Homo sapiens: one gene and its partners. The protein of the gene in region 1 interacts with the protein of each later gene in a pairwise test. Each region holds a gene or a part of one and is shown in the gene's direction. Other genes may lie near its edges.

Region 1 (8,295 bases):
ATGGAGATCTTGCCCAATGTCCCTTTGCTCTGTTAAGTATATGTTAGGAGAACTCACGTGAAGGAAAATGTTGGAATCACCTAATGTCCCATGTCCTTAGCTAGCATCAGGATCTTTTCCCTTCCATGGAGTCATTTATTCATTCATGCAGCTACTTGATATCTTACTCAAGGCTCTCCACTAAAGATGATAAGACCTAGTTTCTGTCCTTCACTGTTGTGTTTATATTCTACTTAAGAGGTTATTCCAGAAGCTCTTACACAAGGTTGAAGCAGTCAAGTGCCATTAAAGAGATTTGACTAATTAACTCCAGGAGTTTAGAGGTCTACAGCTCCAAATTTAAGAATTATGGGAGTGGAAGTGGGAACATTTATAGTATTTGGATATGCTTAAACAAGCAACAGAGGGGTTATCTCAGGCAGAGAGAACCGTTATTCAAAGACACAATGTTAAAATCACAAGTGATCTAGTCTAGCTGGAAGGGTGCAGAAAGAAAGTTGGAAAGGGCCGTTGTCAGATCATAGAGGACCTGGACTCCCAGAATGAGAATTTTGGCTTTTCTTCTGCTCCCTGTTTTGTAGGTTATAGGGAGTAGCAAAGTATTTGGGGCAGAAGTTTGGCAGGTTTAGAATGTCAATTTAGCAAAATTAATCTGGCATCATCCTATAAGACTGATTGAAAAAGGAGAGAGTGGGGAAGTAGAAACCCATTAGGAAAGAGCAGGGTTGGCTGGTAATCCTCAACCAAAAATTTCTCCCCAAAACCTTTGAGGGACAACAGGCTTCCAAAGTGTTCTTAGAGTGTCTCATTTCCTCAGAGTTCTATATTCAAGGGAAATCCCTCAGTAGATATCCTAGCTTGGACCTACACCTAAGGTCTTAGAAAAAAAACAAGGCTACCTTGTTCCCAGGTCCCCATGTACTCCTGAACGGCAAGCAGTGGAATGATGGCAGGTACAGCGAGATGCCAGAGGGTTTGATGAGGGCAAGAGTCAACAGACCCTGGCCAAAGACTCTTGGTTTTTCCTTTAAATGTTAAGATGTTTCCCATCAAATTTCTCTCCACTTATTCACATTGTTAATGACTTAATCAGTGAAAGCTCTCAGGAGTATTATTAAATTTTTCAAATAGTTGGCCCAAAGTATTGAATCCCTAAAGATGGTCCTTTAGACAGTTAACATACACATGTTCCTGGCATCTCCCGAATCATAGTGTGCAAATGATCACTATTTGTGTGCATATAGGACTAGGCTAGGCAGGTAACCACATCTGAGCGCCTCCATTTGTGACTTGTGAACCTGATACAACATGTCCAATCTGATAAAATAAAAAGCATCCAGCCAGTGAAGAGGACGTGTACCCTGGCTGATATCTTGGACCTTCATCTGCTAAATGACAGGAAGAAATTTGCCATAAAAGGAAATGATGGACCCAACAGGTAGCTTATACTCCCTTCATGTTTTGACCTCTAGAGAAGACTTCAAGTCTTTACAGCCAAACGGGAGAGGCAGCCACCCTCCATGTGCCTCCCCTAGAAAAATCCATCTGGATTTGGGGCCTGGGGAAGGGCACTGTGAGGGCGGCCGAGTACAGCATCCTCGCTGCCGTGTGGTAAGAGTGACATCTGGTGGCTGCCATGCTCAGGCTCAGTGCTCTTCCATCAACCCTGCAAGGGCAATGGAGGACTTCGGAGACCACTTAGGTGCCCCAGGTGGAAGGGACCATGCAGATGAAGGAAATGGAGCTCACGATGGGGAATGGGGGTTTGATTTGCTCAAAGACCTTCTAGATAATCTTGAGATTAGACTTAGTTTCCTGGATTCTAGGACAGGGTTCTTGTGTCCTGCTTATTTCCTTTATCGTTCTTTCTAATCAAAGTTTGAGATATACAAAAGGCCACATGGAACATATGTGTAGTTATTCAGCATAATGATGAAAAGAAAAGCTATGGGTCCTTCTAGAATCCAACTAGAACACTGAAATTCTTACATGCCTCTGGGTACTCCTCTTGTCTCCCATCCCCTCTGCATTTATCCTGAAGTTTTGTGTTTTCCATTCCCCTGCTTTTTAAAAATACTTTTATCTTAAATGTATATATCCTTAAACAATATACTGTATAATTTGTTTGCTTTCCTGATCCTTTCTAAGAAATTATTTACATGGATTTTCTCTCTCCAAAGAAGATGGTGACAACTCACAAAGATACCTGCTTTTCCCCAGAACTATAGCTTTGCTGTAATGTACTAACATTGAGGATTTCTGGAAGAGAGAGAGCCATGGCATGACAGCCTTATCAGAGGGTAGCCTCAAGCTAAGATCTTAAAAAATAAGTACTGATTTAAATTATATTTAGAAGGCAATTCACACATCCACCTTAGATTTTTTAAAAATTCATTCATTCATTGAAAAACATTTCCTGATTGATTAGTTTGATTGTCCTCATACACTAATGATGCCCAGGAATCTCTCCACATTCTGCTTGTAATCCACAGGAATCATTATTTCAGGATGAGGGAAAGGCAATTCTGAATAATTGACCTGAACTTTCTTAGGGGCCCTCAATCTTAACGATGGGCTCAGGCACTATATTTTATAAAAAGAAAATAAATAAGACATAATATCTCACAAATATTAGTAGGACAATTAAATAGATCATCTGAAATCAGGTGTAGTGGAAAGTCAAGGATGGCAGTTGCCATGCTGCACTGAGCCCCCCTTATACTTAGCTCTTGCTGAGTTAAGAGGGAACCATGAGTGTGAGAAAGACTAACAAGTGAGTGAAAAACTAGACAGTAATACCAGGAGGAAGGCCAAGAAATGTATCACTAATTTCTTGTTTGATTTCAGAGCTGGAAACAACTTCTGGTGGATTCCTGTAGTGGGCCCTTTGGTTGGTGCTGTCATTGGAGGCCTCATCTATGTTCTTGTCATTGAAATCCACCATCCAGAGCCTGACTCAGTCTTTAAGACAGAACAATCTGAGGACAAACCAGAGAAATATGAACTCAGTGTCATCATGTAGTGGCATGCTCAGCTCTGGATTTGCAGTCAGTTTGGGATTCTCTTCAGAAAGATGGCATCTAAGTGTCTGTGTTCTTGTAAGCCTGAGGTGGAATCCACCCAGTTTTGTCTGCTAGCCATATGGGACATCTAATTGGAAAAGCATCTGCATAAAAGTTTGGAAACAATGACCACTTCTCTACCATTGTCCCCCACCCCCACCCCCCAGAATAACGCTGACTGTCCCCTGAAACAGCCTTCTCTCCTGCCCTGTTTATTTCATCCTCGATGGGAATTCTTGCTAGGTAAGCACTAATAACTCGGCATCTTGACGATAGTCCCATTTGGGTGGTTTCAGCTGCACTATCTGTATGAAATGGTGTCACCAAAACCCTTTTCTTCAGTATCGACAAAGATTACATTCTGAGTACCAACCAAACCCTAAATTGAAAGACAAAACTATGGTTTCAGTCAACATATTCATGAATTAGGGAGCTAATGGGTTAAGCTTCCAGTTCCCGCTATGCTACTGGATTTGTATAAATACTGATATTCTCCAAACCTAGTGGTGTAGGGAGCAAGAGAATGCAGCTGGAAGGCACAAGGGGAGGACATTGTGGCATTCAGAAACTGCAGGAGACAAGATGAATTTGAGAAGCCAAATGGAATTTTTAATGGAAACCATTTATCAGATTAATCTCTTGCTCTCCTGCATTTTAGAGGACACCAATTAATTTCCTGGTCTTTAGTATATAATAACCTAAAATACCATTGTAACCTCAGTCATGAAAAATACATCACTCTGTCTTTTTAGCTCAAATGTATTTTCCTAATTGCCCACTTGAGAACAGACATTTGACAAGTTATATCAACGACTGTGCTTGTCCATTATTTTACACATGCCCTAGAAGCCAAAACTGAAAGCCACTGGATCCTGGTCTAGCTGAATCTTCAGAGTGGGAGGTCTCCAAAAAGATATTACCTTATTGGGCTTAACAATTCACAAGGCACTTTCACACCCATTATCTAATTTAATCCTCATAATGACTATGTGAGGCAAATGCCACATTGCCCATTTTTCAGATAAAGAAACAAAATCTTAGGGAAGATAAGTTGAGTTGTCCAAGAGCACACTGAAAGTTGAATGTTATCTAATGCATTCCTCTACCTTTCAGAAGATCAGTAGCTGGCTGACAATCTTTGCCAAATCTTCCTTGCTAGCCAGAAGTGGAATTGGCAGCTTCTAGAATATGTACACCTCTGGACAAAATGTTCCTCAATCTTAAGATACAAAGACCCTCATTGTCTGGGTCTATTCCCACACTTACTGAGTACAGATGAAGGAAAGTGGTAGCAATTTAATCATAACTTTCATTTGCTGAAAAACATTATGAGAAGGCCTCCCTTCCTAAGCCACCTCTGGTCTTGCTAAGTCTTGATCTTGCTTCCTGCCAGCACCAAACATTACATTCAGGGGATTTCCTCTGGCTCAGTCTTTTCCCCTTGAAGTTCTCTAATAGATGTTACTTTTGACAAAAGATCGCCTATGAGTTACAAGCACCAGGGGATGCTCTACATCAAGGGATGCACCTTCAGTCAAACTGTCAAAAAGCCCAGAATTCCCAAAGGCATTAGGTTTCCCAACTGCTTTGTGCTGATATCAGAACAGCAGAAATTAAATGTGAAATGTTTCTGATGACTTATGTTCTACAATCTATGGACATACGGGATTTTTTTTTCTTGCTTTGAAGCTACCTGGATATTTCCTATTTGAAATAAAATTGTTCGGTCATTGTTGGTTGCTTGGTTGGTTTTTATAAGTATTAAGATTACTAAGTACGTCTAGTTCAGAGGTTGTCTATTGTGTCTACAAATTTGAATTTCCTGGGGGAACTTTTGAAAAAATACTGGTGCCCAGTTGGTCCTTTGTAAACATCTCAGGTGATTCTAAAATGCAGCAAGGGTTGAGAACATTGACTTGGGTAAATCACACGGGTCTAAAGTTTCTTTGACCATGTCCAGTAGTGGCCAGGTAATTCCTAGCAGGATTCCAGAGTCTTGGGATCCTCATGGATTAGAGCAATGGTTTTCCTCCCTCCCTACTTCTAAAGGGAACATGTGGCAATATTTGGAGACTTTTATGGTTATCACAACTGGGAAGGGGATGCTAATGGCCTCTAGTGGCTAGAGGCCAGGGATGCTGCCAAATATCCTACAATGCAAAGGCAACCCTCCCAACAGGTAATTATTTGGCCCAAAATGTCAATAATGCTGAGGTTCGGAGATCTTGGTGTCGAGGAAAGGTAGGGAGGGGAGTAAGAGAAGACACTGAAATCCTGCACCTTGATTCAAGTTCAGTCAGGAGCAAAGGTGCCAGACAAACCAGGAACAAACCCTGGGGGTGGACTATAATTCTTAAAGCAAGAGGCAATTCAAAATTTGAGTTTTGAGGATGAACTGTGGAATCTATGATCTACACAGGTGCTCATTAAACACAATTTGATGATTGATGACTAGGATTTATAAACAGGAAATGTACCATTATGGAAATCAACCCCAGGAAGAATTTTTTCAATGGAAAAAAGTGCTTTTGTTCCAGGTGCTCACACTCAAATTCTCTCCCCACCCCTACCCCCATTTACAAATAAGTGGATTTACCTTTGTGGAGTTATTTTCCAAGAGAATGTTTATATGGTTGAATTATCTGTATCCAAAGTCAACTAGATAGAGCCAACTTATCCATTTTTTAAATAGTTGCTTTAAGAGTTAGAATTGTAACATTCCTCCTTCCCTCCACCTCATGAATCGAAAAACTTGATAGAAGCATTTATCTTAATGCCAAAAATATAATTTCTCTGATTCTTTAACCAGTTGAGATCTCAGAGCATGTCAAAGGTTGCAGGGCTTTTCTAACCAGTAACAACCAGTCAATATTCAGCTGTTAAACAGGATACTCCACATAAAAATGTCATACGTAAAATGTTATCCTTAGGATATAAATTATTATTTCCTTTAAATTGCTTACACACACACAAACACACACACACACACGTCTTACTGTAAGGTATATTGATGTTCAATAATATCGTCATGGGAAAAAAATACATCTTCCAGTTAGAGAGAATGGTTTATAAGTTTTATTTAGCCACAGAACCTGTCGTTCAAATAAAACCTTATATGACACCCACAAGTGAACCAGAATTGCTATAAATAAAAAAAGGGAGGGGGATCAGGAGCTTCATTCTGCTTGTGATATCATCTTAAAAACACACCCCCAATGCAGCCCCTAAGGGGTCTCTGAAGAGAAATTGTGTGTGTGTGTGTGTGTGTGTGTGTGTGTGTGTGTGTGTGTCAGGGCTGGGGGTGGGGTTTCAGAACACAGTGTCACAGTTTGAAAATCATTGATAAAGACTTGGGATAAGTTGTTGGTGCACACTTTTATGAAAGTTTCAAGGATATAACCTACAAAAGACCATATTAACTTAATCTCAGGTCTTTTCCAAAGACTTTTTAATAAATGAATTAGACAGGGTGAACAGAATTACTCAATCCAGCAAACATCACCCACAAAGAGATGTGGTACATCAGTCCTCAAACTGGGAATTTAAGTTCTCTGTGACAACATGTTTACTAATCACAGCCCATACACAGAAGCAATGGTACTCCTGGTCACACTTACTGTGTTGACTGTCTAAGTCTGTATAAAAATAAATAGATAGATGATAGACAGACAGATAGGTAAGCAACCAACCATGCTCCAATCTCTTTCTTATTGCTGGAAACGGAGTAGCTCTTATTCAAGAGATGCTGTCTCTGGATTAGTGAAAAGAGGGCACCAGGCAAACTGAACATGAATCCACAGAACTCTGTGTGGATGGAGATGCTGCCCAAGCCAGTTGGACTCTGTCTCCCTCCAGGGCTACCTTATGTTTCTAGTAGCTTTCGACACTTTTGCCTTTGTGGACCTCTCCCCACCCCTGAAAGTATCAATTAAATCGTTTTGTAATTGTTCTGGTGACAAGCTCGATTATATTCTTTTTTTCTGGATGTGATTTCAGGAGATATTTAAGCCTTCCCATGGTCTCTTAGTAGCATGGGTTCCAGACATAGCGCCCAGTAAGGAAGTCCTACTATCTGCCACTGCCTCCCTACTCTAGCGCGCCCCCCTGTGTTCCAGAGCCCCTCACACGCAGCCCCTTCCTCCACGGGGCCCTCAACTCCCTCACTGTGGGGTCTTAGGAAACACTGCGGGAGCCCTGGGAGTCCTGAAGGTTGTGAGGGACGCTCCAGAGCCCAGACCACTGTTCATGGGGATCGGCCACGTCGTGGCACTCCGCCCTCCACCTCAGGCTCCCAGCAGGAGAGTGGCTTCCTGACTTCCTTCCTGCAGAGGAAGCAGGGCGGTCCAGGGCCCGAGTACCCCCGATGCAAAGGTCCTGCGTAACGTGTTATTAAAGAACAATTCTTGTGCTTTAATTCTTAGTGTCTCACAGTTCACAAAGCACGTTCATATCCAGGACCTCTAAGACTCTCAGAACAGCTCAGCAAGTAGATTATTATCTCCACTTAGAGATAGGGAAACTGAGAGTCGAGGCCTTAAACAATTTGTACCAAGTTCCGGAGTGAAGAGTGAAAGAGGTGGGATGCGAACCGCGTGTCTGAGTGGGGTGACCAACCATCCCAGGTTGCTTGGAACTCAAGCGTTTCCTGGGATGCAGGATTCAGTGCCAATACCGGGACCATTCGGTCACCCTCCGTCCTGAGCCAAGACTCCTGCACTTCCCACCACCGAGCCTCCTTGCAGACAAATGGTCTCCTTTGGGCTCATTGTCTTGCAGCAGATAAAATGTTCTTTGATTAATTTAACAGAAACAGAGAATGTCTTCATTTTTAATTTCAATTATAAATGTGAATAAATATTTTAAGAGTGGCACAGTGGTTTAGAGAATAGGCTATTAATGAAAATTCTGTCAGTTCTACCTTCCATATATATTCCAAATCTGACCTCTTCTCACACACAGCCCTAGTCTAAGCCACGGCCTCTGTCTCTTAGGTCTTAGAAAAGCCTCCTAATAGGTCTCCCTACCTTTCTGCTTAAACTCCTGCTGCCTGTAATCAACACAGCAGCCTGCATGATCTTTAGATAAAAGCCCAACTGTACTTAGAAGTGTCACATGCTCTGACCTTCCTGGCCTGGTCTTTACTGCCCTCCCCTTTGTCTGTCGCCTCAGCTGCAGCGATACAGACTTCCATCCTGATCCTTGAACCCACCAAGCAAGCCCCAGCCACAGGGCC
Region 2 (12,162 bases), on another chromosome or scaffold:
GGTGCACACCAACATGATGCCAGGCTAATTTTTGTATTTTTAGTAGAGATGGGGTTTCACTATGTTGGCCAGACTGGTCTCAAACTCCTGACCTCAGGTGATCCACCCGCCTCAGCCTCCCAAAGTGCTGGGATTATAGGCATGAGCCACCTCGCCCAGCCAACCCCATGCTTTTCGTCCACTCATTGTTTGATAGACACTTGAGTTGTTTACATCTTTTGGTTCTTCTGAACAGTGCAGCCACAAATATGCACACACACAAATATTTGTTTGAATTCCTGTTTTCAATTCAAGCAAAGTTTCTGGGTCATGGGATAATGATGTGTTTAACTTTCTAAGAAGCTGCCAATTGTTTTCCACAGTGGAAGCACCGTTTTCCTTCCTGGGTCTTTTCCATGCCTTGCACTCTGCTTCTCCTTGAGCTCTTGCCTTTCAGTACCCTCTTGAGCACATAGAGATATTGCTAATGGGTCTTTAACACCCTGATCTGCTAAGTCCACCATCACTGTCATTTCTGGATCTGTTTCTATCACTCGATTTTTCTCCTGGTTATGTCTCATATATTCTTGCTTCATTGCCTGCCTGGTAATTGTTAACTGGATGTCATATTTACTTTGTGGATTTCACGTTGTTGGTTTCTTGACGTGGCAGCTGGCCTCCAGGATGGCTTCCGTTGTGTGATGCCTTCCATTGAGTGTGGGCTGGACCTGGTGACCCACTTCTAATAGATATGACAAGGAGGAAGGGATGGCGCATGAGTCAGACACAGAGTGTGACATCAGCCCCACTGGTCCTCATACTGGTTATGGTGGGGAACCATGTCACAAGCAGCCCCAGGAAGAGGCTCATGTGGCAGGAGCCTGAAGTTCCCACCAGCCATTGTGGCCCACCAGTTCCAAGACATTCTCCAGAGCCCAAAGTCCCAGCCCAGAACATGACCACAGCCTCATTGCAAACCCTGAGCCAGAACCACCCAGCTGGGCCACTCCCCACCTCCTGACCCTCAGAAATCATTGTTTGAAGCTGCTCTGTTTGGAGACAATTTCTTATGCAGCAAGAAATAACACACTCCATTTTGTTTTTCGTTAAATAATGTTAGACTCCGTGTGGCTACAGTTAAATTATTTTTAACGTGTTGGATCTTCCCAATACTTGCTTTTAATTGTATTCGAATGGGTTCAGAACAGCCCTTGCTAACCCCGCTACCAATTCAGTCTCTTTTTGAGAATTCTGCCCGCTGCCTCGTGTATTCTGAAGGCTTTCTTCTCGGCTGTGTGAGTTCTAAGAGTCACTCCATTGACCATTTCCGAGGTTTCCTTCCTGCCCCTCTGTGTGTCTCCTGAGCGCTCCGTGTAGCCCTTTCTCTCCGAAGCTTTGCCCAGCAAATTCGAGTCCCTCCGCCTCCCCACACTCTAACACTCTTCTCCTCAGCGTGTGTGGGGTGGCGCCCTGGGATCTGTTTGGGTTCGTTTGCCCTGAGCCAGGCCTTGCTGGGGTCACAGAGCTCAGCACTCGTGTTGTGTCTTTCAGGGATCATGATCCTTCGCGGCCTGTTGTCAAATATCCAGAAAGCACTGCTTCCGAAATCTCCTGGATTTCTAGTTGTTTAAGGTGAGCAAATACGATACCTGCTATTGTATGTTAGCCAGGAGGGGAAGTTTGAGTTGTGTTGTTATTTTTTAGCTTTTGTTTTGAAATAACTATAGATTCATGGGAAGCTGCAAAAATAGTACAGAGGGGTCCTGCTGTGCATAGCTACAGTCAGACCTCACATAACTACTGTGTGAAGATTTACATAACCATACATCGTGCAGAACCAGGTCTTATTCGTATTTCACCAGTTTTCTATTCATTTGTGTGTGTGTGTGTGTGTGTGTGTGTGTGTGTGGTTCTATGCAATTTTTTACATGTGTAGATGTGTGTAACCACTGCGGCAATCAACATATAGAATGGTACATCCCCACAGAGATCTCTTGTTCTACCCCTTTACAGACACACCCATTCCCCAGGCCCAGCCCTTGGCTACCACGAATAAGCTTTCCATTTCTTTTTTCTTTTTCTTTCTTTTTTTTTGAGACTGAGTCTGGCTCTGTCTCCCGGGCTGGAATGCAGTGGCGTGATCTTGACTCACTGCAAGCTCCGCCTTCCGGGGTTCACGCCATTCTCCTGCCTCAGCCTCCCGAGTAGCTGGGACTACAGGCGCCTGCCACCACGCCCGGCTAATTTTTTCTACTTTTTAGTAGAGACGGGGTTTCACCGTGTTAGCCAGGATGGTCTCAATCTCCTGACCTCGTGATCCGCCCGCCTTGGCCTCCGAAAGTGCTGGGATTACAGGCGTGAGCCACCGCGCCCGGCCTCAGCTTTCAATTTCTATAATGTCATTTCGAGAATATTGTATAAACAAAGTCATAGAGTATGCGACCTTTTGGGGTTGGCCTTTTTCACTCAGCGTAGTTCCCTTGAACGCCCTCCTGCTGCTGTGGGTATCAGCAGTTCACCTCGTTTTATGGCTGAGTCTCCCATAAGGCAGATGTACTCGTCTGTCTAACCATTCATTCACGGATGGAGTTTTCCAGTTATTAGCTATTACAGGCAAAGCTGCTGTGGACAATTGTGTACCGGGTTTTCTGTGTCCATTTATCCCATTTCTCGGGATAAATGCCCAGGAGTAAAACTGCCAGGCTGTATAGTAAGCATATGCTTATTATTTTTGTGTTGTTTTGTTGTTTTTTTACACGGAGTCTTGCTCTGTCACCCAGGCTGGAGTGCAGTGGCGCAATCTCGGCTCACTGAAGCCTCCACCTCCCAGGTTCAAGCGATTCTCCTGCCTCAGCCTCCTGAGTAGCTGGGACTACAGGTGCACACCACCACACTCAGCTAATTTTTTGTATTTTTAGTAGAGATGGGGTTTTACCATGTTGGCCAGACTGGTCTCGAACTCCTGACCTCAGGTGATCCATCCCCCTCTGGCCTCCCAAAGTTGGGATTACAGGCGTGAGCCACCACTCCTGGACCAGCATATGCTTAGTTTTAAAAGAAACTTCCAGCTGGGCGTGGTGGCTCACACCTGTAATCTCAGCACTTTAGGAGGCCAAGGTGGGAGGATCTCTTGAGCCCAGGAGTTCAAGACCAGTCTGGCCAACATAGTGAGACCCAGTCTCTATTATTTAAGCTTAAAATTTTTTAAATAAAAAACAAAAGCAACTTCCAATTTCCAGCATGGCTGAACCATTTTAGAGCCACTCAAAGTATGCATTTCTCAACATTTTGAGAGATTCAGTTTGTCTCCATCCCCACTAATATTTGGTTTGGTCCCTACTTTTCATTGTAGCTGTCCTAATAGGTCCCTACTTTTCATTGTAGCTGTCCTAATAGGTCCCTACTTTTCATTGTAGCTGTCCTAATAGGTCCCTACTTTTCATTGTAGCTGTCCTAATAGCTGGGCTGTGATAGCTCACTGTGGCCTTAATTGGTGCTCCTTGATAGTCAATGACATTGAGCATCTTTTTAGGTGCTTATTTGCCACCCATAGATCTTCTCTGGGGAGATGTTCCTTCATGGTTTTTGCCCATTTTCTAGGTGGATTTTATTTTTGCTGTTGAATTTTCAAAGTTCTCTATATCTTCCAGACACCAGTCCTTTGTTGGATATGAAACTTTCAAATGTTTTCTCCAAGTTTGTAGCTTGCCTCTTCATCCTCTTTTTTTTTTTCTCTCTCTCTCTCTCTTTGTTTTTTGAGACGGAGTCTCACTCTGTCACCCAGGCTGGAGTGCAGTGGCGTGATCTTGGCTCACTACAACCTCTGCCTCCTGGGTTCAAGTGACTCTCCTGCCTCAGCCTCCTGAGTAGCTGGGATTACAGGCATGTGCCACCAGGCCTGGCTAATTTTGTATTTTTAGTAGAGATGGTGTTTCACCATGTTGGCCATAGGTGGTCTCGAACTCCTGACCTCAGGTGATCCGCCCACCTCGGACTCCCAGAGTGCTGGGATTACAGGTGTGACCCATCACGCCCGGCCCCGTTCATCCTCTTAACAAGGTCTTTCTGGAGCAAGAGTTTCAGATTTTGATGCAGTATGATTTACCAGTTTTTTTCTTTTGTGGATCTTGCATTTGGTGTCAAGTCTAAGAATTCTTTACCTAGCCCTACGTCCTGAAGATTTTCTCTCACGCTTTCTTCTAAAAGTTGTATAGTTTTATGTTTTACTTTTAAACTATGAGTTAATGCATATGTCAGGTGTGAGTTTTAGATGGAGGTTCTTCGTTTGCATGGGATCGATTGCACGTGATGAATTGCTCCAGCACCATTTGTTGCAAAGACTGTCCTTCTTTTAGAGGGACTCCCGCTTGCCAGGCCTCTGGTTTAATGAAACATGACCAGAGTGACTCCATCTTAACGTGAATAACTAGACACTCACAAGGCACCTATAAGGTTATATAACGAGGCTATGCTGCTCGATACTGACTACGACAATTTCCTGTTTCTCTGCCTACAGGACACCACCACCCCCATCCAGAGCATGATGTGCCAGTACCTGGGTGGGTCTCACAGCACATGAGCTCAACGTGGGTGAGAGGCAGCAGCTACTTCCATGGCTGGGAACCCTGGGGAGCTGACAACTGGCTTCCTGTCCACCTCAGTGCCTGTGGGCTGGTTTTTTCTTTCTTGGTTTTTTTTTTTATTTGTTTGTTTGCTTTGTTTTTTTTGAGACAGGGTCTCATTCTGTCACTCAGGCTGGAGTGCAGTGGCGTGATCTCGGCTCACTGCAACCTCCACCTCCCAGATTCAAGCGATTCTCGTGCCTCAGCTTCCCGAGTAGCTGGGATTACAGGCGCGAGCTTATGGTCTGAAAATACCCGCATACTAAGCTGACCACCAATTATAACTGCAGAACATTTATGCCCATACGAGGCATCTCCCACCAAGCCTGGAGAATGTACCGATGACCTGGGAGTGCAGGGGGTTATCTTTGCTCACAAATAACGTCAACGAGTAGGCTGAGGCTGAAGGGCAAATGGTCATTGATCACACTAGGAGCCCCTATCTTTAGCGAGTGCATCTGCATGATCCAGGTTTCACTGTAGCTCATTACAGCTTCTTACAAACAGAGGCACTCACAGAGGACGGGCGTTCCTCCTGCTCGCTGAGGTTGCCCGGCTCTGGCACAGAGTCATTTCCCATAAACTTGCTTTCACTGTGCTCTGTGAGTCACCTTGAATTCTTTCCCGTGTGAGATCTAAGAACCCATTCTTGGGGTCTGGACTGGGACCCTCTTTTCCGACAACACTTCCCCCACGCACTGTTCTTGCAGCTTTGTTAAAGGTCTGTTGTTGTTGTGTGTGAGTCCATGTTTGGACTCTCTATTTCCCATTGATCTATGTGTCCATTTCTCTGCCAATACCACAATCTCTTGGTGACTATTGATAATAGTGCTTGTAAACTTGGGTAGACTAACTCTTTATACTTTATTCTTCTTCAAAATGGCTTTAGCAATTGTAGCTCCTTTGCCTTGACATGTAAATTTTAGAAAAAAAAATTTCTCTATATATCTACATATGGTGGGGTGTGGTGGCTCACACCTATAATTCCAGCACTTTGGGAGGCCGAGGTGAGCAGATCACTTGAGGTCAGCAGTTCGAGACCAGCTTGGCCAAAATAGTGAAAACCCCTCTCTACTAAAAATACAAACATTAGCCAGGTGTGGTGGTGGGCGCCTATAATCCCAGCTACTCTGGAGGCTGAAGCAGCAGGATTACTTGAACCTGGGATGCAGAGGTTGCAGTGAGTCAAGATCGTACCACTGCACTCCACCCTGGGCAACAGAGCAAGACTTGGCCTCAAAAAAATGTATATATGTATATATGTGTGTGTGTGTGTCACACACATGTCTATAGCTACCTACAAAATATCTTGCTGAGAATTTGATAGGAATTGCATTAAATCTCTAGGTTGAGTTGAGGAGAGCTAACACCTTTGCTGTGTTGAAGCTTCCAGCCCATGAACACATTGTGCCTGTCCTTTACCTTAGGTCTTTGATTTCCCTTCCTTGGGTTCAGAGTTTAAGTCCTGTCCATATTTGGTGAGATTTTTGCCTACATGCTGTGTGTGTGATTACAAATCCTGAATTTCCAGTTTCGGGTTCTGTCTACTCCTTGACACTGTGTGGGAACACGGTGGATTTTTGTGCGATTGACCTTGCTGACCTCACTCGGTTCTAGGAGGGGTTTTGTAGAGTTCTTGCAATTTTGTACCTGGGCAATGATGTTATATGCGAATAGAGACAGGTATACCTCCCCCTTCCCAATCTGCCTGCCTTTAGTTACCATTTCTTGCCTAGCTGCTCTGGCCGGAATGACCTGCTCTGATGGATGGGGGAGTGGGAGTGGACACCCGTGTCTTGCCTCAGGACTCAAGTGCTCTCCAGGGAGTGAGATGCGGGCTCGATTGTAAGTTACAAAGTGATGCTTCCCTGTGGGAAAAAGTACATCCAATATAGACTGTAGGACAAAGTCTGAAAGTCCACTGCCTCCCATTTCCACCCAGTCTTGCCTGTGAGTCAGAGAGAAACAGTGCTAACAGGCAGTGTGCACCTGTCCAGAGGCTGGCTGTTTGAGGGACACAGGTGTGCACACCTGGGGATGTCTGAGTGGAAGGTACAGGTCAGGATTATGACCGTGCAGTCAGTCACCCACTGGCATGATGTCTGTGGCATCCTGGGGCAGCCATGGGGCTCTCAGGCCCTCTGCCTGCCCCACAGGCCATACCCCTGCCCTGGACACAGCTGTCCTCAGTGCTGGCCTCTGACCCAACATTGTCCAGGAGCCCCAACCCAGAAGGTGCTCCCGCCGCTGCCAGCCTGGACCCGACCCAGGCCCCTCCCGCCTGAGGCCCTGCCAAGAACTGCCCAGCCCGGACACAGAGGAGGTTCCCGCGTGGACGCAGGGAAGAGCCTCCCATTGCCCCAGTGGAGGAAGCTGCCCAGGGGCCAAGGATGAGTCACAGGTTCGAGGAATCACATGGCGAGGCTGTGGGCGGGGATCTTGTCTGCCCTCCTCCTACATAAGGCCCCCTGAGCCCACACTGCCTCAGCATCCCTCTGGCTCCAGAGCTCAGAGCCACCCACAGCCGCAGCCATGCTGTGCCTCCTGCTCACCCTGGGCGTGGCCCTGGTCTGTGGTGTCCCGGCCATGGACATCCCCCAGACCAAGCAGGACCTGGAGCTCCCAAAGGTTTGAGGCTGGGGGAGCGGGCACTTTACTGTGGGAGGCCTGGGGCGGGTGGGAGCTGCGGGCAGGCAGGAAGCCCAGGATCTCAGAAACCTACAGGAAGCACAGAATGGACGCCATGACGTCAGGAAGCCCTCAGCCCTGCTCTCCATCTTTAGGGTGGCCTCTCTGGTTTCCCAGCATCCTAGGTGACTCATTATTTGGACTTTGGAACACTCCTGAGTTAGCACACACTGGTCATTTTAAGTACAGGAAATTTCATAGCCCAGGATCTGGTAGATAGCAGACAACCATCCAATGCTCACTGTACCCATCCCAGTTAGACTCAGCCCCGTCTGCACCGGGTGCAACGAGAGCCATGGTGGGGTGGGACCGCCGTGCAGCCCAAGGCCCCCTCAGTTGGCAGGGACCTGGCACTCCATGGCCATGGCGACCAACAACATCTCCCTCATGGCGACACTGAAGGCCCCTCTGAGGGTCCACATCACCTCACTGTTGCCCACCCCCGAGGACAACCTGGAGATCGTTCTGCACAGATGGTGGGTTTCTCATCATTGAGACGGGCTGGGCGGGGGCTCAGTCTCCCCCCTCAGGGGTCCAGGACTGGGTGGGTTGGGCGGAGCTGGACTTAGCCCCAGGCATTTTCTGACAGCCAGGGGCTTCACTGTGGCCCTTCCATGAGGGTGGGGTGGAAAACCAGGGCTCCAGACGTTCCCTGTCCCCTTGGATCCCCTGCCCCAGGCTCTGGGCCAACAGCCAACCACACAGTGCAGCCCCAGGTCAGACTGAGGAGAAGGTCTGGGCGGCTGCGGGCTGCGGTGCTCCTTGGACCCGGGGAAGTTCCCGTGGTGACCTGATTTTAGGAGTGACAGTGAAGGCAACTCCAATTCAAGTGGCCACTCATCCTATTGTCACCACCTTTCAGGGAGAACAACAGCTGTGTTGAGAAGAAGGTCCTTGGAGAGAAGACTGAGAATCCAAAGAAGTTCAAGATCAACTGTGAGTGTCCCCAGGCCCCAAGGGCTGGCTCAGTGCTGGCATGCTAGCCACGCTCTCCCAGAGGCGGCTCTGCTGGGGCATGAGGGAGTGGGGCCTGGCCTGTCCCCACTCTCTCTGCTTCAGGGAGTCAGAGTGTTTACTCCGGTCAACCTGATGCTGACCCCAGAGGCATCTTTTACCTGGAGGGCAGGGGAAGCACTAATTCTTGGCATGACATGACTGGATGTGGGTCTGCACTGTGCCCAGGCACAGGGGACAGGTGCTTTGTTGCACTGTTCACTCTGGCCTCACAAAAGGCCAGGGAGGCTGCAGGCGAGCAGGTGGGCAGGTGGGCAGGTGGGTAGGTGGGTAGGTGGATATGTATACAGGTGGGCAGGAGGGTAGGTGAACAGGTGGGTAGGTGGGCAGGTGGCTAGGTGAGTAAGTGGTTAGGTGAACAGGTGGGCAGGTGAGCAGGTGGTTAGGTGAACAGGTGGGCAGGTGGGTAGGTGGGTAGGTATACAGGTGGACAGGTGGGTAGGTGGACAGGTGGGCAGGTGAGTAGGTGAACAGGTGGGTGGGTGAACAGGTGGCCAGGTGAACAAGTTGGTAGGTGGGCAGGTGGGTAGGTGAACAGGTGGGCAGGTGGGCAGGTGGGCAGGTGGGCAGGTGGGCAAGTGGCTGCTGTTCCCGTGGGCCTGGCTGCCTCCTGCGCACTCTGGGGCTGCAGCTCTGGTCTTAGGCTGAGCTCCCAGGCCTCTCTGGGGGAAGAGAGAGGGGCTTACAGCATGTCCTTGGTCCACTGAATTCTTCCTAACAATTTGCAACATTTTGTTCTATTTTGTTAATTATTATTTTTTTAAAAAGACAGAGGTGGTCAGGGTCTGGGGCCTCTTATCCCCTCATGGGCACATTTTCCCAGCAAATACAGTTTGCTTCTCATGCTTGGGACTTGCCTCAGGCCTTTCTGACCCTGCTTGCCCTCCCCAGAATCGAGCCACTCTCCAAGGTCCATTTCTTCTCCCTCTTCCCGCCCCTGTGCCCTGTTCCTGTGCCATCTCCCGCCATCCTCACCCGTACGTGACTTCTCAGTTGGAGTCTCTCCAGGTCACAGCCTCCCTGCCTGCCGTGTCTGCCTCTCCACGGCACACCTGGCCTCTCCCCCTCAGCCGGGGCTCCATGGCCCTCCACATTGCCTCTCCTCCCCTTTCCTCCCTGGCTTCCCTGATCATGGTCCACAGCAGGGGCCACGTCCCATGGTGTCAGTGGATGAGGAAGCCACTTAGTGTGGTGGGATGTCCACACACCTGCACAGGACTCTGCTGAGACGGAGGCTTCATCTTCCTTTTGGTTCTTCTCTTCTTTCCCCAGATACGGTGGCGAACGAGGCCACGCTGCTCGATACTGACTACGACAATTTCCTGTTTCTCTGCCTACAGGACACCACCACCCCCATCCAGAGCATGATGTGCCAGTACCTGGGTGGGTCTCACAGCACATGAGCTCAACGTGGGTGAGAGGCAGCAGCTACGTCCGTGGCTGGGAACCCTGGGGAGCTGACAACTGGCTTCCTGTCCACCTCGGTGCCTGTGGGCTGACTTTTTTTTTCTTGGTTTTTTTTATTTGTTTGTTGTTTGCTTTGTTTTTTTGAGAAAGGGTCTCATTCTGTCACTCAGGCTGGAGTGTAGTGACGTGATCTCGGCTCACTGCAACTTCTGCCTCCCAGATTCAAGCGATTCTCGTGCCTCAGCCTCCAGAGTAGCTGGGATTACAGGCGCACGCCACCATGCCCAGCTAATTTTTGTATTTTTTGGTAGAGACGGGGTTTCACCATGTTGGCCAGGCTGGTCTCCAACTCCTGGATCAAGTGATCCACCCGCCTTGGCCTCCCAAAGGGCTGGGATTACAGGCGTGAGCCACCACGCCCGGCCAGGCTGAGTTTTTCTCCAGCGGTTCATCGAGTCCTCTGACAAAGCAAGGAGCTGATATAGGGCCAGTGGGACGGTCGCCAGTCAAGGGGCTGGGCTTGGTGGATAGATTAATACTCACTGGGCGTCCAGTCAAAACGCCCTGAAACCTATGATGCTGTCAACCAAACGAAGGCCAGGAATACCAAAATAGCCACATAGGCACAGCCCTTCCCCATGTTTCTGAGCACAGTGTTTCCTCTGGGGTCACACAGGTGTCTTCTTGATCAGCCTCAGCCATGCTTGGTGAGAGCCGGGCACTGGGAGAGCCAGGCACTGTGCTCTCCTGTGACGCTGTAGACACCATCCTAAGCTGTGCAGACCCCAGCGCTGCCCAGAGCGGAGCAGAGGGGGCCGGGCCAAGGAGTGGGAGCTGGGGTCAGGGAACCTGGAGGTGCAGTGGACAGAGCCCCGGAGACCGCCCTAGGGACCTACTCCAGACCAAACTCTGCCAGACCTCGGAGCACTGGGGCCTCCTTCTCTGCCCTCCCTCCTCAGGCAAGGCCTCTGGAGCTCCCCAGCTCTCATGGAAGCCCCAGGGGCCCAGGACTGACCCAGCCTCTTCCACAGCCAGAGTCCTGGTGGAGGACGATGAGATCATGCAGGGATTCATCAGGGCTTTCAGGCCCCTGCCCAGGCACCTATGGTACTTGCTGGACTTGAAACAGATGGAAGGTGAGCTCTGCCTAGGACACGCCCAGCCTCAGCTGGAGGAGAAGCTGCCTCTTTCTTAGCCCGAGCCCCCTGCTGGCTCTGCAGGACTCAGGTCACTCCTTTTTGGCCCCTCCCCTGTTCTCCCCTGGCCTTCTGGGGTGCAGAGCCACCCTGAGGTGGGGTCCTGCCCTCTCCCACCATCCTTTCATCCCTTCTCTAGCCCTGGGGCTGCTGTGTCCCCAGCTGTCTCTTCTCTCGCTGACACCTCCACTGTCCCATCTCCTCCCACAGAGCCGTGCCGTTTCTAGGTGAGCTCCTGCCTGGTCCTGCCTCCTGGGTAATGTATCAGCCTCGCCCACTGTCTGCGGCTGCCTCTCTGGGCCCCTGGGACAGACCCTACTGTGTCCAGTTCAGGGCTGACCCTACAGGAATGAACTGGGGTCTGGTCTTGTGATTCCAGAAAGCCAGGCTGCTGACGTCCCCATTCACGAGCCCAGCCTGTGTCTTGCAGCCATTGTATTAGTCACGGGCTTGTGCCCTATAGTCAGACCTCATGCTTTCTTTTGGGGTTAGGGGTGTTGGTTGGAAATGGTGGGGGCTATAGGAGGAGGAAGGAGGATGGTTACATGGAAGGGCATGAGAAGCTGGGGACCTGCAGGTCTCGGTCCCACGTTCTTTTTTTTTTTTCTTTTTTTAAGATGGAGTCTCGCTCTGTCACCAGGCTGGAGTGCAGTGGCACAATCTCAGCTCACTGCAACCTCGACCTCCTGGGTTCAAGCGATTCTCCTGCCTCAACCCCCCGAGTTGCTGGAACCACAGGCGTGTGCCACCATGCCCAGCTAATTTTTGTATTTTTAATAGAAACGGGGTTTCACCATGTTGGCCACGATGGTCTCAATCTCTTGACCTCATGATCCCCCCGCTTTAGCCTCCCAAAGTGCTGGGATTTCAGTGCCACATTCTTAAGGGGGTGTCCTCAAGCCCACCACATCCTTCCAGGGCTCCCCCGAAACACCCTGCTCTTCCTCCCTCTACTTAAGTGACCTGTAAACCCAACAGCTCACCTCCGCCTCCAGGAAGACCAGACTCCCACCCTTCCACACCTCCAGAGCAGTGGGACTTCCTCCTGCCCTTTCAAAGAATAACCACAGCTCAGAAGACGATGACGTGGTCATCTGTGTCGCCATCCCCTTCCTGCTGCACACCTGCACCACGGCCATGGGGAGGCTGCTCCCTGGGGGCAGAGTCTCTGGCAGAGGTTATTAATAAACCCTTGGAGCATGTCCTGTCTGGATGCGCAGCCACTGCTGGGTGTGGGATTCAGGGACGAGGGCCTG
Region 3 (12,264 bases), on another chromosome or scaffold:
AAACCAGCACAAAAATGCTGAAAATTTAAAAAACCAGAATGCTTCTTCTCTTCCAAATGATTGTAACTCCTCTCCAGCAAGAGCACAAAATTGGACAGAGAAAGAGTTTGACAAATTGACAGAAGTAGGCTTCAGAAGGTGGGTAATAACAAACTCCTCTGAGCTAAAGGAGCATGTTCTAACCCAATGTAAGGAAGCTAAGAACCTTGATAAAAGGTTACAGGAACTGCTAACTAGAATAACCAGTTTAGAGGAGAATATAAATGACCTGATGGAGCTGAAAAACACAGCATGAGAACTCGTGAAGCATACACAAGTATCAGTAGCCGAATCGATCAAGCAGAAGAAAGGATATCAGAGACTGAAGATCAACTTACTGAAATAAGGTGTGAAGACAAGATTAGAGAAAAAAGAGTGAAAAGGAATGAACAAAGCCTCCAACAAATATGGTACTATGTGAAAAGACCAAACCGGTGATTGATTGGGGTCCCTGAAAGTGATGGGGAGAATGGAACCCAGTTGGAAAACACACTTCAGGATATTATCCAGGAGAACTTCTCCAACCTAGCAAGACAAGCCACTATTCAAATTCAGGACATACAGAGAACACCACTAAAATACTCCTTGAGAAGAGCAACCCCAAGACACATAATTGTCAGATTCTCCAAGGTTGAAACAAAGGAAAAAAATGTTAAGGGCAGCCAGAGAGAAAGGTCAGGTTACCTACAAAGGGAAGTCCATCAGACTAACAATGGATATCTCTGCAGAAACCCTACAAGCCAGAAGAGAGTGGGGGCCAATATTTAACATTCTTAAAGAAGAGAATTTTCAACCCAGAATTTCATAACCAGCCAAATTAAGCTTCATGAGTGAAGGAGAAATAAAATCCTTTACAGACAAGCAAATGCTGAGGGATTCTGTCACCACTAGGCCTGCCTTACAAGAGCTCCTGAAGGAAGCACTAAATACAGAAAGGAAAAACCAGTACCAGCCACTGCAAAAAAACACCATAATATAAAGACCAACAACACTATGAGGAAACTGCCTCAACTAATGTGCAAAATAACTAGCCAGCATCATGATGACAGGATCAAATTCACACTTAACAATATTAACTTTAAATGTAAATGGACTAAATGCCCCAGTTAAAAGACACAGACTGGCAAATTGGATAAAGAGTCAAGACCCATCAGTGTGCTGTATTCAGGAGTCCCATCTCACATGCAAAGACACACATAGGCTCAAAATAAAGGGATGGAGGAATATTTACCAAGCAAACGAAGAGCAAAAAAAAAAAAAAAAAAAAAAAAAAAAAAAAAAAGCAGGGGTTGCAATTCTAGTCTCTGATAAAACAGACTTTAAACCAACAAAGATCAAAAAAGACAAAGACGTTACATAATGGTAAAGGGATCAATGCAACAAGAAGAGCTAACTATCCTAAATATATATGCACCCAATACAGGAGCATCCAGATTCATAAAGCAAGTTCTTAGAGATCTACAAAGAGACTTAGACTCTCACACAATAATAGTGGGAGAGTTTAACACCCCACTGTCAATATTAGATCAATGAGACAGAAAATTAACAAGGATATTCAGAACTTGAACTCAGCTCTGGACTAAGCGGACCTAATGGACATCTACAGAACTCTCCACCCCAAATCAACAGAATATACATTCTTCTCAGCACCATATAGCACTTATTCTAAAATCGACCACATAATTGGAAGTAAGGCACTCCTTAGCAAATGAAAAGAATGGAAATCAAAACAGTCTCTCAGGCTACAGTGCAATCAAATTAGAACTCAGGATTAAGAAACTCACTCAGAACCACACAACTACAAGGACACTGAACAACCTGCTCCTGAATGACTACTGGGTAAATAATTAAATTAAGGCAGAAATAAATAAGTTCTTTGAAACCAATGAGAATGAAGACACAACGTACCAGAATCTCTGGGACGCAGCTAAAGCAGTGTTGAGAGGGAAATTTGTAGCACCAAATGCCCACATCAGAAAGCAGGAAAGACCTAAAATCAACACCCTAACATCACAATGAAAAAAACTAGAGATTCACGGGGGGAGGAGCCAAGATGGCCGAATAGGAACAGCTCCGGTCTACAGCTCCCAGCGTGAGCGACGCAGAAGACGGGTGATTTCTGCATTTCCAACTGAGGTACCAGGTTCATCTCACTGGGGAGTGCCTGACAGTGGGTGCAGGACAGTGGGTGCAGTGCACCATGTGTGAGCCAAAGCAGGGTGAGGCATCACCTCACCCAGGAAGCACAAGGGGTCAGGGAATTCCCTTTCCTAGTCAAAGAAAGGGGTGACAGACGGCATCTGGAAAATTGGGTCACTCCCACCCTAATACTGCGCTTTTCCAATGGGCTTAACAAATGGCACACCAGGAGATTATATCCTGTGCATGACTCAGAGGGTCCTACACCCACGGAGTCTCGCTCATTGCTAGCACAGCAGTCTGAGATCAAACTGCAAGGCAGCAGCGAGCCTGGGGGAGGGGCACCCACCATTGCCGAGGCTTGAGTAGGTAAACAAAGCAGCCAGGAAGCTCGAACTGGGTGGAGCCCATCACAGCTCAAGGAGGCCTGCCTGCCTCTGTAGACTCCACCTCTGGGGGCAGGGCACAGACAAACAAAAGGCAGCAGTAACCTCTGCAGACTTAAATGTCCCTGTCTGACAGCTTTGAAGAGAGTAGTAGTTCTCCCAGCACGCAGCTTGAGATCTGAGAACGGGCAGACTGCCTCCTCAAGTGGGTCCCTGACCCCCGAGTGGCCTAACTGGGGGGAACCCCCAGTAGGGGCGGACTCACACCTCACACGGCCGGGTACTCCTCTGAGACAAAACTTCCAGAGGAACGATCAGGCAGCAGCATCTGTAGTTCACAAGTATCCGCTGTTCTGCAGCCACCACTGCTGATACCCAGGCAAACAGTGTCTGGGTGGACCTGTTTAGTGGACCTCCAGCAAACTCCAAAAGACCTGCAGCTGAGGGTCCTGACTGTTTGTTAGAAGGAAAACTAACAAACAGAAAGGGCATCCACACCAAAAACCCATCTGTACGTCACCATCATCAAAGACCAAAGGTAGATAAAACCACAAAGATGGGGAAAAAACAGAGCAGAAAAACTGGAAACTCTAAAAATCAGAGCGCCTCTCCTCCTCCAAAGGAACGCAGCTCCTCACCAGCAACGGAACAAAGCTGGACGGAGAATGACTTTGACGAGTTGAGAGAAGAAGGCTTCAGACGATCAAACTACTCTGAGCTAAAGGAGGAAGTTCGAACCCATGGCAAAGAAATTAAAAACCTTGAAAAAAAATTAGGTGAATGGCTAACTAGAATAACCAATGCAGAGCAGTCCTTAAAGGACCCGATGGAGCTGAAAACCAAGGCACGAGAACTACATGACGAATTCACAAGCCTCAGTAGCTGATTCGATCAACTGGAAGAAAGGGTATCAGTGATGGAAGATGACATGAATGAAACGAAGCGAGAAGAGAAGTTTAGAGAAAAAAGAATTAAAAGAAATGAACAAAGCCTCCAAGAAATATGGGACTATGTGAAAAGACTAAATCTACGTCTGATTGGTGTACCTGAAAGTGATGGGGAGAATGGAACCAAGCTGGAAAACACTCTGGGGAAGTTCTCCTGGATAATATCCTGCAATCTAGCAAGGCAGGCCAACACTCAAATTCAGGAAATACAGAGAACGCCAGAAAGATACTCCTCGAGAAGAGCAACTCCAAGACACATAATTGGCAGATTCACCAAAGTTGAAATGAAGGAAAAAATGTTAAGGGCAGCCAGAGAGAAAAGTCGGGTTACCCACAAAGGGAAGCCCATCAGACTAACAGCTGATCTCTTGGCAGAAACTCTACAAGCCAGAAGAGAGTGGGGGCCAATATTCAACATTCTCAAAGAAAAGAATTTTCAACCAGAATTTCATATCCAGCCAAACTAAGCTTCATAAGTGAAGGAGAAACAAAATCCTTTACAGACAAGCAAATGCTGAGAGATTTTGTCACCACCAGGCCTGCCCTAAAAGAGCTCCTGAAGAAAGCACTAAACATGGAAAAAACAACCGGTACCAGCCACTGCAAAAACAGGCCAAATTGTAAAGACCATCGAGGCTAGGAAGAAACTGCATCAACTAACGAGCAAAATAACCAGCTAACATCATAATGACAGGATCAAATTCACATATAACAATATTAACCTTAAATGTAAATGGGCTAAATGCTCCAATTAAAAGACACAGAGTGGCAAATTGGATAAACAGTCAAGACCCATCAGTGTGCTGTATTCAGGAAACCTATCTCACGTGCAGAGACACACATAGGCTCAAAATTAAGGGATGGAGGAAGATCTACCAAGCAAATGACAAACAAAAAAATGCAGGAGTTGCAATCCTAGTCTCTGATAAAACAGACTTTAAACCAACAAAGATCAAAAGAGACAAAGAAAGCCGTTACATAATGGTAAAGGGATCAACTCAACAAGAAGAGCTAACTATCCTAAACATATATGCACCCAATACAGGAGCACCCAGATTCATAAAGCAAGTCCTTAGTGACCTACAAAGAGACTTAGACTCCCACACAATAATAATGGGAGACTTTAACACCCCACTGTCAACATTAGACAGATCAATGAGACAGAAAGTTAACAAGGATATCCAGGAATTGAACTCAGCTCTGCACCAAGTGGACCTAACAGACATCTACAGAACTCTCCACCCCAAATCAACAGAATATACATTCTTTTCAGCACCACACCACACCTATTCCAAAATTGACCACATAATTGGAAGTAAAGCACTCCTCAGCAAATGTAAAAGAACAGAAATTATAACAAACTGTCTCTCAGACCACAGTGCAATCAAACTAGAACTCAGGATTAAGAAATTCACTCAAAACTGCTCAACTACATGGAAACTGAACAACCTGCTCCTGAATGACGACTGGGTACATAATGAAATGAAGGCAGAAATAAAGATGTTCTTTGAAACCAATGAGAACAAAGACACAACATACCAGAATCTCTGGGACACATTCAAAGCAGTGTGTAGAGGGAAATTTATAGCACTAAATGCCCACAAGAGAAAGCAGGAAAGATCCAAAATTGACACCCTAACATCACAATTAAAAGAACTAGAGAAGCAAGAGCAAACACATTCAAAAGCTAGCAGAAGGCAAGAAGTAACTAAAATCAGAGCAGAACTGAAGGAAATAGAGACACAAAAAACCCTTCAAAAAAATCAATGAATCCAGGAGCTGGTTTTTTGAAAAGATCAACAAAATTGATAGACCGCTAGCAAGACTAATAAAGAAGAAAAGAGAGAAGAATCAAATAGATGCAATAAAAAATGATAAAGGGGATATCACCACTGATCCCACAGAAATACAAACTACCATCAGAGAATACTATAAACACCTCTACGTGAATAAACTAGAAAATCTAGAAGAAATGGATAAATTCCTTGACACATACACTCTCCCAAGACTAAACCAGGAAGAAGTTGAATCTCTGAATAGACCAATAACAGGCTCTGAAATTGTGGCAATAATCAATAGCTTACCAACCAAAAATAGTCCAGGACCAGATGGATTCACAGCCGAATTCTACCAGAGGTACAAAGGAGGAGCTGGTACCATTCCTTCTGAAACTATTCCAATCAACACAAAAAGAGGGAATCCTCCCTAACTCATTTTATGAGGCCAGCATCATCCTGATAGCAAAGCCTGGCAGAGACACAACCAAAAAAGAGAATTTTAGACCAATATCCTTGATGAACATTGATGCAAAAATCCTCAATAAAATATTGGCAAACCGAATCCAGCAGCACATCAAAAAGCTTATCCACCATGATCAAGTGGGCTTCATCCTGGGATGCAAGGCTGGTTCAACATATGAAAATCAATAAACGTAATCCAGCATATAAACAGAACCAAAGACAAAAACGACATGATTATCTCAATAGATGCAGAAAAGGCCTTTGACACAATTCAACAACGCCTTCATGCTAAAAACTCTCAATAAATTAGGTACTGAGGGGACGTATCTCAGAATAATAAGAGCTATCTGTGACAAACCCACAGCCAATATCATACTGAACGGACAAAAACTGGAAGCATTCCCTTTGAAAACTGGTACAAGACAGGGATGCCCTCTCACCACTCCTATTCAACATAGTGTTGGAAGTTCTGGCCAGGGCAATCAGGCAGGAGAAGGAAATAAAGGGTATTCAATTAGGAAAACAGGAAGTCAAATTGTCCCTGTTTGCAGATGACATGACGGTATATCTAGAAAACCTCATCGTCTCAGCCCAAAATCTCCTTAAGCTGATAGGCAACTTCAGCAAAGTCTCAGGATACAAAATCAATGTGCAAAAATCACAAGCATTCTTATACACCAATAACAGACAAACAGAGAGCCAAATCATGAGTGAACTCCCATTCACAATTGCTTCAAAGAGAATAAAATACCTAGGAATCCAACTTACAAGGGATGTGAAGGACCTCTTCAAGGAGAACTATAAACCACTGCTCAATGAAATAAAAGAGGATACAAACAAATGGAAGAACATTCCATGCTCATGGGTAGGAAGAATCAATATCGTGAAAATGGCCATACTGCCCAAGGTAATTTATAGATTCAATGCCATCCCCATCAAGCTACCAATGACTTTCTTCACAGAATTGGAAGAAACTACTTTAAAGTTCATATGGAACCAAAAAAGAGCCCGCATTGCCAAGTCAATCCTAAGCCAAAAGAACAAAGCTGGAGGCATCATGCTACCTGACTTCAAACCATACTACAAGGCTACAGTAACCAAAACAGCATGGTACTGGTACCAAAACAGAGATATAGACCAATGGAACAGAACAGAGCCCTCAGAAATAATGCCGCATATCTACAACCATCTGATCTTTGACAAACCTGACAAAAACAAGCAATGGGGAAAGGATTCCCTATTTAATAAATGGTGCTGGGAAAACTGGCTAGCCATATGTAGAAAGCTGAAACTGGATCCCTTCCTTACACCTTATACAAAAATTAATTCAAGATGGATTAAAGATTTACATGTTTGACCTAAAACCGTAAAAACCCTAGAAGAAAACCTAGGCAATACCATTCAGGACATAGGCATGGGCAAGGACTTCATGTCTAAAACACCAAAAGCAATGGCAACAAAAGACAAAATTGACAAATGGGATCTAATTAAACTAAAGAGCTTCTGCACAGCAAAAGAAACTACCATCAGAGTGAACAGGCAACCTACAGAATGGGAGAAAATTTTCGCAACCTACTCATCTGACAAAGGGCTAATAACCAGAATCTACAATGAACTCAAACAAATTTACAAGAAAAAAACAAACAACCCCATCAAAAAGTGGGCAAAGGATATGAACAGACACTTCTCAAAAGAAGACATTTATGCAGCCAAAAAACACATGAAAAAATGCTCACCATCACTGGCCATCAGAGAAATGCAAATCAAAACCACAATGAGATACCATCTCACACCAGTTAGAATGGCGATCATTAAAAAGTCAGGAAACAACAGGTGCTGGAGAGGATGTGGAGAAATAGGAACACTTTTACACTGTTGGTGGGACTGTAAACTAGTTCAACCATTGTGGAAGTCAGTGTGGCGATTCCTCGGGGATCTAGAACTAGAAATACCATTTGACCCAGCCATCCCATTACTGGGTATATACCCAAAGGACTATAAATCATGCTGCTATAAAGACACATGCACACGTATGTTTATTGCGGCACTATTCACAATAGCAAAGACTTGGAACCAACCCAAATGTCCAACAATGATAGACTGGATTAAGAAAATGTGACACATATACACCATGGAATACTATGCAGCCATAAAAAATGATGAGTTCATGTCCTTTGTAGGGACATGGATGAAATTGGAAATCATCATTCTCAGTAACTATCGCAAGGACAAAAAACCAAACACGGCATATTCTCACTCATAGGTGGGAATTGAACAATGAGAACACATGGACACAGGAAGGGGAACATCACACACCAGGGACTCTTGTGGGGTAGGGGAGGGGGGAGGGATAGCATTAGGAGATATACCTAATGCTAAATGATGATTTAATGGGTGCAGCACACCAACATGGCACATGTATACATATGTAACAAACCTGTATGTTGTGCACATGTACCCTAAAACTTAAAAGAATAATAATAATACAAAATAAATAAAAATAAATTGTACATCAAGTAAAAAAATTAAAAAACTAGAGAAGCAAGAGCGAACAAATTCAAAAGCTAGCAGAAGACAAAAAATAACTAAGATCAGAGCAGAAATGAAGGAGATAGACACACGAAAAACCCTTCAAAGAACCAGAGAGTGACTTTCAATTGAAGGACAGAGCCATACCAAGGTGACCTTACAGGGAAACAGCTGGGAGAGTAAATACCTAATTTCACTCTTCCCTGTCTCTGATCTACAGCCCAGCTAGAAGCCAGGAGGAGCAGACACCCTGCTGATGGAGCCCAACAAGGTCAGCCTCCCATGTCTGAGAGAAGAATGGATTCTGGTTCTGGAGGAGCAGTCAAAAGATATCGGCAAAAACTCTGTCACAGTATTGGCCACTTTAAAAAATAGATATATTCCATACTTCTGCAGTGAGATGGGCTGAAAATATATTTGAAGCTGTTATATGAAAAGCCACAAAACCTTTCCTAGCTCCAGCTCCCTGGTTGTAGTTTCATGACTGTGGTTCATATGTTTTATTTTTAAATTCCCTTTTCTATTACTGTTTTAAAATGTACTTTGTCTAAGATATGTATTAAAGGGCCATATTTTAGGAAAGTCCATAAGGAGACCTTCTTTGAGAAATGACATATCCCTTTTTCTTTAACCATCACTCTCATCCCCTCTTTGGCTATGACATTTCCATTGTTAGCAGTTGGTAGGAACCAGGCCAAGGATCACAAGGAGCCAGGAATTGCTGAGCTGACTGAACTGCCTTTATTCCCCGGCTTTGGAGCACCTGGATCAACCATACACATTTACTGCTGCTTCTGATGATGTGTTTTTACACTGAATGCATTTTTCATGTTGTTTGTTAAAGATATGCAGGGAGAGTAACTCAGATGATTCTAATAACATGATTATATTGAGATAGGACTAAGGGAGAATTTTGGTGTTTGCAAAGAAATTATTTTTAAGTTCTCTTTTTTTTTCCTGTAGAAAGATGTTGTGTCCCTCCTGGTGAGCGCTGTCCCAGTGCACCCGATAATGGCGAAGAAAATGTGGTAAGGCATTATTTCCTTTATCAAACCATATACAGTATAAAAATGCTTCTTTAAAAGGGTAATTGAAGTTCTGACTGATTCACATATCATCAAGCAAGACTTTTATACAGAAAAAAACAGCAGCAGGGGTTGCAGGATAATATAGCACGAAAAATATAATTAGGCTTTTCCCAATGTCTATAATTAAACAGGCTCTACTTGCTTAAATACATGGTTGTTCTTCTTGTCTCCTATTGTTATTTGTAGAGAAGATCTCCAATGGCATTGTGCATATGAGGGTGAGCCAATGTACTTATTCTTATGATAGAAGCATGAAACATGGGATTGTATACAAGTGGAAAGAAACACAACTATAATTCACTTGCAAATTATAGTTTGATTGTATACTTCCTTTTTACTGCATTCCTTTTAGTATTTATGTGTTCCATTAATCAGAGTATAAATAAGGGCCAGGAGTGTGGTAAACTTGTTTTTTCCACTGTTAAAAACCATGAAACAGCTAGTAGGGAGATTAAAATTAACTGATAAGACTCAGACTTATTTTATAATGGTCTCATGGATCTTTAATTTCAGATGCAAGCAATAGACTAAAGCTTTTTGCCGCCCACCCCAAAACACTACTATCAATAAATATTTAAGATATAAATGGTTATTCTGACTTGAACAACAGACATTTAGAGTCTATTTTTCTTGCTTCTAGCCTCTTTCAGGAAAAGTATAGGAAATGAGAGAAGACTGTGACAACTCATGACCTGCATCCTTAATATCCAGTGACTTCATCTCCCCTTTCTTCACCACAATTCCAGGCAATGGCCTGTCGGAGCAGACAATTCTACCACTGCAAAGAGTTGTAACCATTTTCTGGTATCACATTTATTTTTCAAGACATACTTTTCAAGACATCATTCACTGACCCACTACCTGCATTGAGTATAAATGCCTGGATGTTAAGGATTCCAATTTAACTTTGAAAAGAACTGTCTCATTCATTTACATTTCTGTTACAGTCAGCCCAGGAGGTTACAGTGAGCTCTCCACTAAGAATCTGGAAGAAATGCATCACTAGGGGTTGATTCCCAATCTGATCAACTGATAATGGGTGAGAGAGCAGGTAAGAGCCAAAGTCACCTTAGTGGAAAGGTTAAAAACCAGAGCCTGGAAACCAAGATGATTGATTTGACAAGGTATTTTAGTCTAGTTTTATATGAACGGTTGTATCAGGGTAACCAACTCGATTTGGGATGAATCTTAGGGCACCAAAGACTAAGACAGTATCTTTAAGATTGCTAGGGAAAAGGGCCCTATGTGTCAGGCCTCTGAGCCCAAGCCAAGCATCGCATCCCCTGTGATTTGCACGTATACATCCAGATGGCCTAAAGTAACTGAAGATCCACAAAAGAAGTAAAAATAGCCTTAACTGATGACATTCCACCATTGTGATTTGTTCCTGCCCCACCCTAACTGATCAATGTACTTTGTAATCTCCCCCACCCTTAAGAAGGTACTTTGTAATCTTCCCCACCCTTAAGAAGGTTCTTTGTAATTCTCCCCACCCTTGAGAATGTACTTTGTGAGATCCACCCTGCCCACAAAACATTGCTCTTAACTTCACCGCCTAACCCAAAACCTATAAGAACTAATGATAATCCATCACCCTTCGCTGACTCTCTTTTCGGACTCAGCCCACCTGCACCCAGGTGAAATAAACAGCTTTATTGCTCACACAAAGCCTGTTTGGTGGTCTCTTCACATGGATGCACATGAAACTATGAACATAAGAATCTCTGAAGTTAGGTTACACTTGACCACACAAGGCTTGCATAGTTGAGTGACTAGCCATGAAGATAATTTAAACAACTCTTCTGGCTCAATTGGCATATTGCTAATCAATCTTCTAATAAATTTAGATTTTCATATAAATTTTTAAGCAAGAGAAGGGAGAACTCAGCTAACCTAATCTGTTTCCCTTAATTTTAGTCATCAATTTACATAAAAGAAACAGTCTAATGTTAATGCTTGTGAACTTGTCACTATAACCAGGCTTTTGTGTGACTTAGTAGATCAAGGTTTCAACTCTATAAGAGAAAGCAAATTCTGAATTGTGGTGTAACTGCCACCTGGTCCAATTTTATCTGACCTCAGTTTCACAATCCTCTCCTTGTATGTAGTTAACTCTGTTTTTGCTACAATGTTGTGATGGGTTATCACAAATAGCAAAGTATTAAGAATTCCAGTCAGAATGTTAATTATTAAAAAGTCAAACAATAGATGCTGGCAAGGCTGTGGAGAAACAGGAATGCCTTTACACTCTTGGTGGGAATGTAAATTAGTTCAACCATTGTGGAAGACTGTGTGGCGATTCCTCAAGGATCTAGAAACAGAAATACCATTTGAACCAGCAATCCCATTACTGGGTATATACCCAAAGGATTATAAATCATTCTACTATAAAGACACATGCACATGTATGTTTATTGCACTATTTACAATAGTAAAGACATGGAACCAACCCGAATACCCATCAATGGTAGACTGGATAAAGAAAATGTGATACAAACACCATGGAATACTATGCAGCCATGAAAAGGAATGAGATCATGTCCTTTGCATGGACATGGATGAAGCTGGAAGCCATCATTATCAGCAAACTAACACAGGAACAGAAAACCAAACCACATGTTCTCACTCATAAGTGGGAGCTGAACAAGGAGAACACATGGACACAGGGAGGGGAACAACACACACCAGGGCCTGTTGCAGGGTGGGGGGCGGGGGAGGGAACCTAGAGGACGGTTCAATAGGTACAGCAAACCACCATGGCACACATATACCTATGTAACAAACCTGCATGTTCTGCACGTGTATCCCAGAACTTACTTAAAGTAAATTTTTTTTAAAAAAATAAATATAACTTAGATATCTTTTAAAAAAATTCCATTGTGAAGAAAAACTCCAT

What was found.
Region 2: the proteins of AQP9 (region 1) and PAEP interact in binary tests that used the Homo sapiens proteins (3 or more experiments, as listed by UniProt).
Region 3: the proteins of AQP9 (region 1) and HHLA2 interact in binary tests that used the Homo sapiens proteins (3 or more experiments, as listed by UniProt).

Annotation. Positions count from the first base shown.
Region 1 is NC_000015.10:58,181,114-58,189,408, forward strand, and holds the end of AQP9 (aquaporin-9), read left to right. Parts: intron 1-2,847; coding exon 2,848-3,022; 3' UTR 3,023-4,798; downstream 4,799-8,295. UniProt on the Homo sapiens protein: Aquaglyceroporins form homotetrameric transmembrane channels, with each monomer independently mediating glycerol and water transport across the plasma membrane along their osmotic gradient.
Region 2 is NC_000009.12:135,554,669-135,566,830, forward strand, and holds the start of PAEP (glycodelin isoform 1 precursor), read left to right. Parts: upstream 1-7,087; 5' UTR 7,088-7,133; coding exon 7,134-7,229; intron 7,230-7,625; coding exon 7,626-7,765; intron 7,766-8,151; coding exon 8,152-8,225; intron 8,226-9,575; coding exon 9,576-9,686; intron 9,687-10,669; coding exon of another isoform or gene 10,670-10,741; coding exon 10,742-10,846; intron 10,847-11,116; coding exon 11,117-11,133; exon of another isoform or gene 11,134-11,162; intron 11,163-11,865; exon of another isoform or gene 11,866-11,884; 3' UTR 11,885-12,162. UniProt on the Homo sapiens protein: Glycoprotein that regulates critical steps during fertilization and also has immunomonomodulatory effects. Four glycoforms, namely glycodelin-S, -A, -F and -C have been identified in reproductive tissues that differ in glycosylation and biological activity.
Region 3 is NC_000003.12:108,367,250-108,379,513, forward strand, and holds the end of HHLA2 (HERV-H LTR-associating protein 2 isoform a precursor), read left to right. Parts: intron 1-8,500; coding exon 8,501-8,551; intron 8,552-9,243; coding exon 9,244-9,308; coding exon of another isoform or gene 9,309-9,362; exon of another isoform or gene 9,363-10,008; coding exon 10,009-10,029; 3' UTR 10,030-11,036; downstream 11,037-12,264. UniProt on the Homo sapiens protein: Through interaction with TMIGD2, costimulates T-cells in the context of TCR-mediated activation. Enhances T-cell proliferation and cytokine production via an AKT-dependent signaling cascade.